2 separate regions of the Homo sapiens genome follow, and region 1 is linked to region 2. Evidence: fine-mapped expression QTL. A gene starts in region 2. The other region holds a variant in brackets. All regions are shown on one strand. Distances are between the middles of the regions. Region 1 has its middle 190 kb from the start of LRRIQ3. Region 2 holds the start of TNNI3K (TNNI3 interacting kinase).

The links. PIP is the estimated chance that this variant, and not a neighbour inherited with it, causes the effect.
Region 1: its variant is the best candidate, but not a certain one, in a credible set for the expression of TNNI3K in T cells (TOPMed, PIP 0.64).

Annotation. Positions count from the first base shown.
Region 1 is chr1:74,005,971-74,011,367 of GRCh38, forward strand. No RefSeq gene overlaps it. Among named protein-coding and RNA genes, the nearest start is that of LRRIQ3, 190 kb to the right of the region's middle. The variant CATTAAA/C (reference allele first, on the strand shown) is at 2,253.
Region 2 is chr1:74,233,154-74,238,550 of GRCh38, forward strand. TNNI3K (TNNI3 interacting kinase) reads left to right here and starts at 2,234. Exons shown (of 25, transcript NM_015978.3): 1 at 2,234-2,338; 2 at 2,949-3,057. The coding sequence starts at 2,299. FPGT-TNNI3K (FPGT-TNNI3K readthrough) reads left to right here. Exons shown (of 27, transcript NM_001112808.3): 4 at 2,949-3,057.

The sequences.
Region 1 (5,397 bases), 230 kb before region 2:
CTGTAACTGTGAAACAAGGAAGTAATTGGTTAAGCATTCTTAGCCATTTATAAAATATCCCCTAAGTGCCTTACAAGTTCTATGTTAGCTGTAGGAATAGTGATCATTAAGACAGGTACAGATATTTCTTTCAAGAATTTATTTAAACAGTTATTAAGTGAATTATTATAATTAATTAATTATTTGTTAACATTATGAAAAACCTATGAGGAAATAAAGGGTGTTATGAAATAACAAAACAAGGAACTGACTGAGTCTGAGAGGGAAATATCCTCCAGGGAAGTGCAATCTGAAGATCATCAGGTGGTAATTCAATTAAAAAACCTTATTGAGCCTTTACTGTATATATACCACATATATACAGCAAACTATACCACACTGCACATATTTTCGCATGTGTATAGAACTACATTTTTTGATAATAAGATGTGGTTATACAATGAAGGAATGTTAAGTCATTCACAAATAACTATAATAGGAAGCAGAATGTATTGCCACCAAAACTTGTCTTAATAAGTTTTTGGAATATCAGAGAAGAAAAAATTGCTACTGCTTCATTTTCTTGATAAGATTAGTTAAATTAAATAGAAAGAAGACACCGATCAGATTATTTGAGAAACAATGGCAAAAGACACACTTCTCAATGGCTTCCAAAGACCTGGCAGGGGTGACAAAGGCTGAATGAACAGCTTGCATGCTGGACATGATAATACCAGAGAGAGACAGCGTCCTCATGACACATCTTTAAGTATCAAATCCTAAAATAAAATGAAAACAATGGTCTTAAGGATTCTCTGGAGCTGGACTTTTTAGTAAGCCATACATAGTTATTGGGTTGTTAATTTGGGAATGTGAAGCTCAAGTTCCACTGGTTCCAAAAGCTTCCATTTTATTTCTCTTATTATTTTTTGTTGATAGGGTGAATTAGTAACACCCTTAGGTCAATTTTTCATTTGGGAAAAATGGTAGAAACCTGTCAGGCTTTTTATTAGCCTTTATATCAACAGAAATCCTGCGCTCCATAAATCTGACAATATTACATGTAAGAGTAAGTACTTAGATGATGGCTGAACTGGTAATGGGTATCCATGTAAAGCAGTATTTGTAATTTGTCAGACGAATTCAGTGAACACATTAGTTTGATCGTGTTTTTTTAAAGAAAAATTTGAGAGAATTCCTGGATGAAGAAGATCACCACCCTAATCATGAAAATAACCACCATTTACTAAGTGCTAACTATGAGGCACACCGTGATTAAAACCTGTAGTAAACATGACCTACTTTAACTCCCTCAATAAATCCATGAGGAATGCAATAGTCACCTTACACATGAGGAGCTTCTTCACTTATTGTCATTCAAAAAAACATATTTTATACCAGACATATTTTCCATACTCTGAGTATGCAGCCTAGAAAGTTTATTGAAAAGTGCTGGGAGCTACACTCAACAAGTAGTGGACTAGGAGTTGAACCCATAATTGCATCTACCATGTTATTTTCTTCAGCAGTTAATGGCAGTCAATCTTCAAATCTTAATTGAAATTTTGTTTGTAATCAATGAGTTGCAAACTTCATAGATCAAGGGAGAAAATAGATCTATTGAGGAGGAATATGTTTGTTGCTTTCCAAATTACATTTCTTATAACTGCAGAGAGCCTCACCTGCCTCAGTGGGCCCCTCTATCCATCACCTGCTGTGCAGAGCAGATTCCATGAAAGCTTTGATCTGCATGTGCTGTTTCTTTTAAATTCACACAGGATTTTTAAAGTGACTAAATATTAAAAGTAAAATTAATAAGTATTTTTAAGGTTTTTTAGGCCATGCATCTGATTCAGTGGACATTTTAAAAATATATGTTTTTATGTTGTATCTCCTCTTTTCTGCTTTGCTGGGAAGTAATCCTATGCCTTCTTTATTTCTGTAGCTCTGATATAGATGGACCTATCACCTAAATAAGTCAATTAAATCCGTAAGAGCTATTAGTCTACTGGTTCGATGACGATGTGCCAAGATTAAAGTAAATCAACTATGGCTGAAGATACTGGAAATGAATGAAGCAGAATCTTTGACATATATCCATCTTTACACACTTGATGAAGGAATAAAAAAATGCAGTGCATTGTAGTAGTGACTAATCTTAGATTTAGTCACTCTTAGGATTAGTAGCTCCAGATTCCCATCTTTTCCTTTCTCCATTTTTGCACAATTTTCAAACAAATCAATTCCTTATTCATAAAAAGCTTTTTCCGTAT[CATTAAA/C]ATTAAAAGTCTTAAACCAGTATATCATGATGTTGTTGGTTTTTCCATTTTAAATATGCCTTCATATTTTATTAGAAAATTACTTAGAATGCTGAGCAAATGTCTCTGGATATTTGGGCAATTATGCCAAACAGTCAAGACAAATATGACCCCTCTGAATGATCTAGTTTTGTAGACAATAGAGAGAAAACAATTGATTGTAAAACAGATCATTATCTGAGTCTTACAGATTTACTTTTAACAATAAGATTGTTGATTTTTGGCCGAGCTTGGTGGCTCACGCCTGTAATCCCAGCACTTTGGGAGGCTGAGGCAGGCGGAGCACCTGAGGTCAGGAGTTCAAGAGCAGCCTGGCCAACATGGTGTAACCCCTGTCCCTACTAAAAATGCAAAAACTTAGCCAGGCATGGTGGCTGGTGCCTGTAATTATGTAATTATGTAATTCCAGCTACTCGGGAGGCTGAGGCAGTAGAATTGCTTGAACCCAGGAGGCAGATGTTGCAGTGAGCCGAGATCTTGCCATTCCACTTTAGCCTGGGTGACAAGAGCAAGAAACAAGAAGAAGAAGAAGAAGAAGAGTATAGATTTTTTTAAGTGTATGAAAAATATACTGCTGTGACCTAAAAATGAAAATTTTCATAGATACTTTTACAATTTCCAGTATGACAAGGTCAGCTGAAATAATGTTCTTGTGATAATTTTTAGCCTCCCGATTTAGCTAAGGTTAAATGCAAAGAATACAAGTTATTTTTATGTTTACTCGAGTTTTGCCTTTTCGATTCATTTCATATTTTTTACCTGTACTTACCTGTACCTGTTTTAGCTATTTTTCTTTTCTTTTTTTTGAGACAGTGTCTCACTCTGTCACGTAGCCTGGAGTGCAGTGGCGCAATCTCAGCCCACTGCAACCTCCACCTTCCAAGTTCAAGTGATTCTCCTTCCTCAGCCTCCTGAGTAGCTGGAACTACAGGTGCCCACCACCATGCCCAGCAAATTTTTGTATTTAGCAAAATTTTGTATTAGTAGAGACGGGGTTTCACCATGTTGGCTAGGATGGTCTTGATCTCCTGACCTTGTGATCCACCTGCCTCGGCCTCACAGAGTGCTGGGATTACAGGCTTGAGCCACCACACCAGTCGTGTTTTAGCCATTTTTCATAGTAGGCCAATTCATTTCAAATACAGAAAATGTTATTCTTTCTCTATTTTTTCTCATTTCCAGCTTGGGAAACTTATTACAGCTGATATGAGACAGAGATTGATACAGTTGGTGCTGTTAACAACACTCATCAATTATCAACTGTGTACACAGTATCAGATTGCATTAGACACTGTAAAAGGATATAAGAAGAGGGGCATTTGCTTCTGCCTTCAATGCACATGCAATCTAATGAGATTTATATAATACACACCCATGGAAACATATGGTACACTAGAGAAACACTTTTTGCATATTTAACAGGCTCAAGGACCAAATTAATTATAGAGAAATGTGTTCATTTCTTTGTTCAAAAAACATTCATTAGGATTCCATTGCTAATAATATTAGGCACAATAAATTTCAAAAGGGTCATGAAAGACCCAAGCAGCTATAACAATAACATGGTAGTTAATTTTACAGAATGCCTAGTGCATGCCAAACCCTGGAGTTTTACATGCAGTCTCACTTATTCCTCCTGACAACCCTGCATGCAGGGTTGGGCCCTGTTTTCGGCATGAGGTAACTCAGGCTTAGACAAATTAAGTGTTTGGTCAGGGTATATAGCTGATAGTGGTAGAGTATGGATTAAGAACAAATTATTCCAAGTCCAAAGTCCAAGTTTTTCCCATTTTCCCACACAAGCTCTGGAATTGCTTCACCTGGCTAATCTATTCTGAATAATTATTTTTTTTTCTGTTATACTGCCTATATTTACCCTCTGACCTCAGCACACTATTATCCTTTTTTTTTGCACCTTTCTCCCTGTTTTAGGCTGTTATCAACTGTGCAACACAAGTATCACCAGTGCCACCACCAGCACCAGTGGCAGAGCACAACTTCCTGAGCGCTGCGAACTACATTTTCCTGGATGCGCTTTTCCAGGAGTGCTGGTACAGTTGGCCTTTGGGGGAACATTAACACCATTTGGAAGGTGAAAGTGAAACTGAAACTCCGTTGTTCTCCCGCGCGGGGTGCTCAGGCTTCCTGGAGTGCTTGTGCTCCAGTGTCTCCACCTGTGCTTCAGTCTGCAGTAGTGAGTGATGGTTGCCCAGTCCTCCAGCTGTCTCTCAGGCATTTCCCCTTCAACTCCTCACACATTCTTTAAACCCTAAATTTTCTAATAAACAACCTTTATTCCCAAAATACCTTACCAAGCTAAGACTGACACACTCTCTTCAATCTATAAAGCCCCCCTTTCTCACCTTCATCTATGTAATTGCAACCAATTTTTAGAAGGCAATTCAAGGGAAAGAGAACTAGCGTTTACTGAGCAGCTTCTGTGTCTGACGATGTGTGCTAAGTTGTTTGCATCATACCTGATTTTATATTCAGTAAGTCTTTATATCTAAAGTCACTTCTCACTCTCCTGAGCATCATTGCTATTTACTGATTCAACAAATGCTTACCAAGTTCTCATTATATATCAAGTACTGCGTTGCTTACTGATGAGAAAATGATAAGAAGGCAGGTCTGTACCCTCAAGAACCTTAAAGTCTGTGAAAAGAAAGTCAATGGGAAAATATATTACTATATGATAAAAAATAATGACAGAGATGTAGAGGGCCCTATGCATACGTGGGAGGGACACCAGGCTCAAATGGAAGTAGGAAGGTGGAGTGAGACAGAAAAATTTCCAAGTTTGTTATATGGAGGCAGCCTCTTAATTATGAATATAGGTACGCCAAAACCAGTAGCTTGTGAGTGCAGAATACTCCAGGCTAATGCAGCACCATGTTCAGAGTGGCTGTATGTGACTAGAACAAAAAGTAAATACCTGGTGGAGATGCGACTGAAGGCAGACGAAGAAAATAAATTTTAAAGGGCTTTCTCTCAGATGCTAAGTTGCTTGGGTTTTTAACTTGAAAGCAATGGGGGAGGCATTAAGGGTTTATTTTTTAGCTAAGGAGTGTAGGTACAGATTTATATTTTAGACAGATGA
Region 2 (5,397 bases):
AGCATTTCTTCATCAGGCTGAAGGTACCCAGAAAAAATTACTCTAGTACCTCAAACCATTACCTAGATCCACATTCTTAAGAAGGGCTTAGAGATAAATATTGTTTCTTTCAAACCAGGAAACTGTTATAGTTCAATAGTGGTTAATATTTTGGGTAATATTTTGAGTAATTTTCTGCATTTCTTATATTGCTATCGTTTCATTTTATTTCCAGCAAAATGTATTGCATTAGAATGTGGGAGAATTCAACTGAGTTGCTGATTGGATTTTCAAACTCATCGCAGAAATCACACCTTTGAAAGCCAAAGCTTTCATTTGTAAAACCTAGGCTTTTTAAGAGAATAAAAGTATTCTTGAAAATCAAAAGGAAAAATTCTAAAAAGCAGTACATCAGACTTGTGTCCCAAGCAGGAAATTAGAAACACAGTGGAAGATGATGTAAGAGCTAATTTTTCCTCCATATGTGGAAAACATACATGTACACACACACACACGGATGGAAGATCCGAGATATTAGAAATAAGAAAAGAGATCAAGAAAAATATATTTAGTTGTCCTCTAGAAGGCTCCCATCTTTGTCCTTCTGGATTCAGAGTATAGAAACCATGATTATTTTAAGAAACTCTGAGAGGAGAAAGAGCTGGTGCATTATTTCCTAAAGTGTAGCCCTGGGAGATTGCAAGTCTTTTAAAGAAAGCTATCCAGTATGGTCTTCAAGATAAGGAAGAAGAGATTAAGCAGGAAGGTCCCTGGACAAAACAAAGACTTTCCAAACTGAGAAAATGGGGGTCACAGAAGTGCTTAGAGAAAGCTGGTGGAACTGAAGATGTCTGGTTTTCAAACAAGGAGAATGTAGAGTGTATGGACCAAGGTAACCAGATGCCACTGCAGTATAGCAAGTATCAACAGCTGTGGTAGGCATGTACTGATAAGAAGGGAAAAGGAGAATATGTCCAGATGAGGACAAAAAGTGTCTATGAAGCCAGACACCTGATGCGCCAACTATATCTCATCAGTCTGGAAGCCTTACCTCTGAAACTTCTATTACTTTTGCTGAGCAAAAATATATGGTGAGTCCTAACTTTGTCTAATCATTTATTCAAAAAGAGAGTTGTTTGAACATTTAACTATAGAAAATATGAAATCTGTATCTGTTAAGTTAAAGCTATATCCTCTGGATGTGAATCTGAAGATTAAAATTTATACTTTCTAGGTATAAGAAGATTATCTGAAATAAATATATAGTGAAAAATTTAATGTTTTCTTTCTGGGTTTCCCATTTATTCTCCATCATAGACTGGGTTCTTTATATCAGTAGAAATAGGCATACAATATGCATACAAAGAGAAATGTCCTAATAAAGTAAATGGAAGGTGCATGAAAGAGAAATTCTGGAAGACAAATCAATAATATCTAGCTTGGATATTAGAGTCACATGGTCAGAACTGATTCCAGACTTCCAACTTACTAGTAACTTTGTGTTTTCTCATCCATAATTTGTGAATAATATCTACCTAGCAGCACTGTATGTATGAGATTAAATAATGAGATATATGTAAAGCATGTAAACTAGGGTCTGACACATAGCAAATGCTCAATTTTCTTATTCTTAATCTTACTGTTCTTGTCATTTATTATTTTACGAATTGCTATTTGTAGAACTTAATGTTTTACATTCTGATCTATGATTCTTATGGTCGGAATAATCCACAATAGTATAAATCTTGGTCTATGTTGAGAATTTCTTCATACAAACATAATTATGTAGCTCTTATACAGGCCAAACCTGCATTCATTTCTATTAGTTATATGCTAGAGGTAATGAATTTTTATTATTTATTTATGTATGTAGACACATTCTATTACCACTCTTTACCAACTGCCATTATTTTGGCTTAGGAGAAAATGATCTTGAAAACAGGTCTATGTAGTTTTAACAGCTCTTTTGTGAACTTCGGATGTAACTGAATCATTTTCTAGATTTATCTGTTAAATAAATGGTCCATGAAAGTATGTATGGGTAGATAATTGATGGAAGCAAATAATCCTATTGAAACATTTGCTATTTATTTTTGATACAGTTCTTTTAAACAGACTGATTAGTTCCCTTTATGATTTCACCCTCGAAAGCACACACGATTTTGTTCTTTATCATTGTTGCATGACATTCCATTTGGCAGTTGGGCTTATTTTTAGCCAGACTATCAAAGTATTTTTCAACTGGACTGTCACTGCACTTGAACTTGGAATCTTATAACTTGAAGAACTGCCCTGGAGAAAGGAAGAAACTTATAATAAATGGGAAATTATAAATCTAGACCAACCCAAACTTGTACTGGTAATTATTCTAATTATTCTTATTTCCTTAAGTGTAATATGGTTCAATTATAGTTACTGATAACTAACAACTCATTGGAATATGTGTTAATTTGTATACGGAAGATAAGGCAGCATGTTTTGTGAAAGTCTTTGAAAAACTATCTGAACTCAAATTATTTTTTTCTGAAGATCTTTATAGGAAACAAGAAATTTCTTACAAAAATATTATTTTAGTTCCTTGGTATAATGTTACAGAAAAAAATTTGGAATATTGCTGAATGTAGGGATTTTAGAATTATATCTTAAGTATCTAGTATTTAAAAACTAAAAACCGTCTTGCAACTAGAGATTGCTATAATTAAAATGCAATAAAATCAAATGAAATAAGTCAAATATATTTTTCTATGTAAATATATTATCCAATATCGAATGGGTTCTTCATTACTACAATTCAATATGATTGCATTTTAAATATAAACATCTGCATTTTAAACACACAATCAGTAATTTAAATTAAGTATTGTAGAATCTAGAATAAAAAACAGTTTTGATTACTTGTATGTTATGATCTGTGTCTACATTTTGCAAAACACAACTATGAATCAATCTCATTTGTTCTTCTTTACTAGATGAATGGAAGAAAAAAGTCAGTGAATCATATGTTATCACAATAGAAAGATTAGAAGATGACCTGCAGATCAAGGAAAAAGAACTGACAGAACTAAGGAATATATTTGGGTAAAGTTGTAAGAGTCATTATTTCTTTGTATAAGTGTCTTCAGTATTCACCTTATTTTTTAAAGTATCTGTATATTTTTTAAACCCGTAGAACCTCAGACATAAGCAGTCATGTTCTAAGCCTTAGGATGTCAGATTATCTCTCTTTGACCACTCATATAGCTCTCAAAATGCAAACATAACATCTCACCTCCTTAAAATATAAATTGTAATCTGCCATCATTAAAGTTTAAAAATAAAAACCTAAAGGCTAGCCTTTGAATGCAAGCTATTGTTGATCTCAGTAATCTTCTCAGGAATTAGATCATTCTTGTAAACCATGCCGGCAATGAAAAGCAAGATTTTTCTTCCCACATAGTGGTCGCATATTGGCCACATTGTTCTCTTTGAACTATGACGGTAAGTCCAATTTTAACAAACCCTCTGGTCTCTTGACATTGAAAGGCTGTCCCTTAATGGAACTGAGTATCATTCTGCCCCTGAACAATCATATAACAACATATAATATTGCCTTCAGGATTTCAGTAGATTTTGTTCCATGATAACAAGAGAAAAATAATCTAAGTGTCACAACCTTGGAAGACACAAAATGTTCAGAAAAGAGGAGCAAGACCCTTATATACACAAAAAGCCTTCTGGTTAAATTGAATCTGACATTGAGAAACTAGATGCCCATTAGAGGGTCAAGAAAGTTACCTGCCTGACTAAGGAAAAGTTCCATATAGGCCAATTAGCCATGTTCATTTATAGCTGTGTTATGTAATGCACTCATGGCAAAGAACTCCCTCTATTTTACTTAGAAAACAAGTGTAAAGCAATGACCAAATGACACATCTTTAAAATAAAATTTTAGATATAGTAAACATATAAATATCACATAATTGGCAAATAAAATCACCCATGTATAATATAGTTTATATGAAATTCGTCAATGGATGTAACAAGGCTTTCACAAGTGTTCAACTTATGGTTCAAAAAGTAGTTGGTTCTCTTTATAGTTTGGCCCAGGATGATGAACTCAACACTGACACTTGTGATGAGATACCACTGATCTGACTTTTGCAAGTAGTATCACATGTTGAGATATGGAACTACATTTGAAATTCCTGTAGAAATATGACTGGCATGTTAGTACAGTAGAATTATAAATATGTATTTGTTTTGTTGGAAAAGTATGAATATAGAAATTAATCATAAACATCTAGCTCTTATTGACTTAAATAAATATGCTAAATGAAATATGATTACATTGAAGAGATTTTCCTCAACTTTTAAAGGTCAAAGCCTCAGTTATTTAGTATTATTTTTTAATTTAGAAAGTATTGAGCACATAGGTGAAGGCTAGCTTAAACTAGATGTATCCAAACCTGAATATTAGGATTAACAATGGATTTAAAATGTAGGTTCTTTCTGATACCACATCGACAACTACAAGCTGTTTTGACAACTGCTATAATGGACTTTTCCTGTGTTTCTACTAAATGCAACAAATGTGACCTTCTTTTTTCTGATTAGCATTGGGGGTGAGATGCAGGAATCTGTGTCAGGGAGCTTACAGTCCAGAATTTGTTGAGTGCCAGCTCGTATTCAAGTGTTGTTCTGGATACATCAAATACAAGACATTATTTAATCTATAGTCATATGTAGATTGTTGTCATTTCATGTGTGCCGAATAATATTAACTCCGGTGGATGATAAACTAAGGATTAGAGACAAGGCAGTGGGAGTTGTCAAGTCACATGGTCAGTAAATTCTGGAATGTGATTTGTGTCAAGGTCTGCCTGACTCCATAGATAGCGCTCTTCCTACCATACCCTGCTTACAAAAACAAGATTTAGGTCCTGATTTATTCATTGATTTTTGGAATCATTGTAGATAAAAAGCATAGTTAAGTAAAGGTGTGTAGGCAAGAATGAATGAGTACCATAGAAAGTTTAGGAAAAGTGAGAAAAAATAATGTCTTCACCATATTATCTGACTTGAGTAAGAAAGCTATGTGAATCAATGTAAGAATTTTGGAGTCATACAAACATGGTTTTAAATACAGCTTCTTCTATTTATAAGCTGTATATCCATGGATATGTTTTTTAATCTCCTTAATCCTCATTTTCATCTATAAAATGAGGTGAATAATAATCACCTCACAGGATATTTTCAAAATGAGGTAAATTAAATACTAAGTACAGGGCCCAACCCATAGTAAGCATTGAGTAGTTGGAAATTTCTATTATCATGATTGATTGGATAAATAAGGACAGTTTGAAGGATAGAAGACTTATCATAAAGTGAGAGTAACAAATAGCTTATTAAAAGTTAGAAAGAGTGAAAGTTTTTATGAAG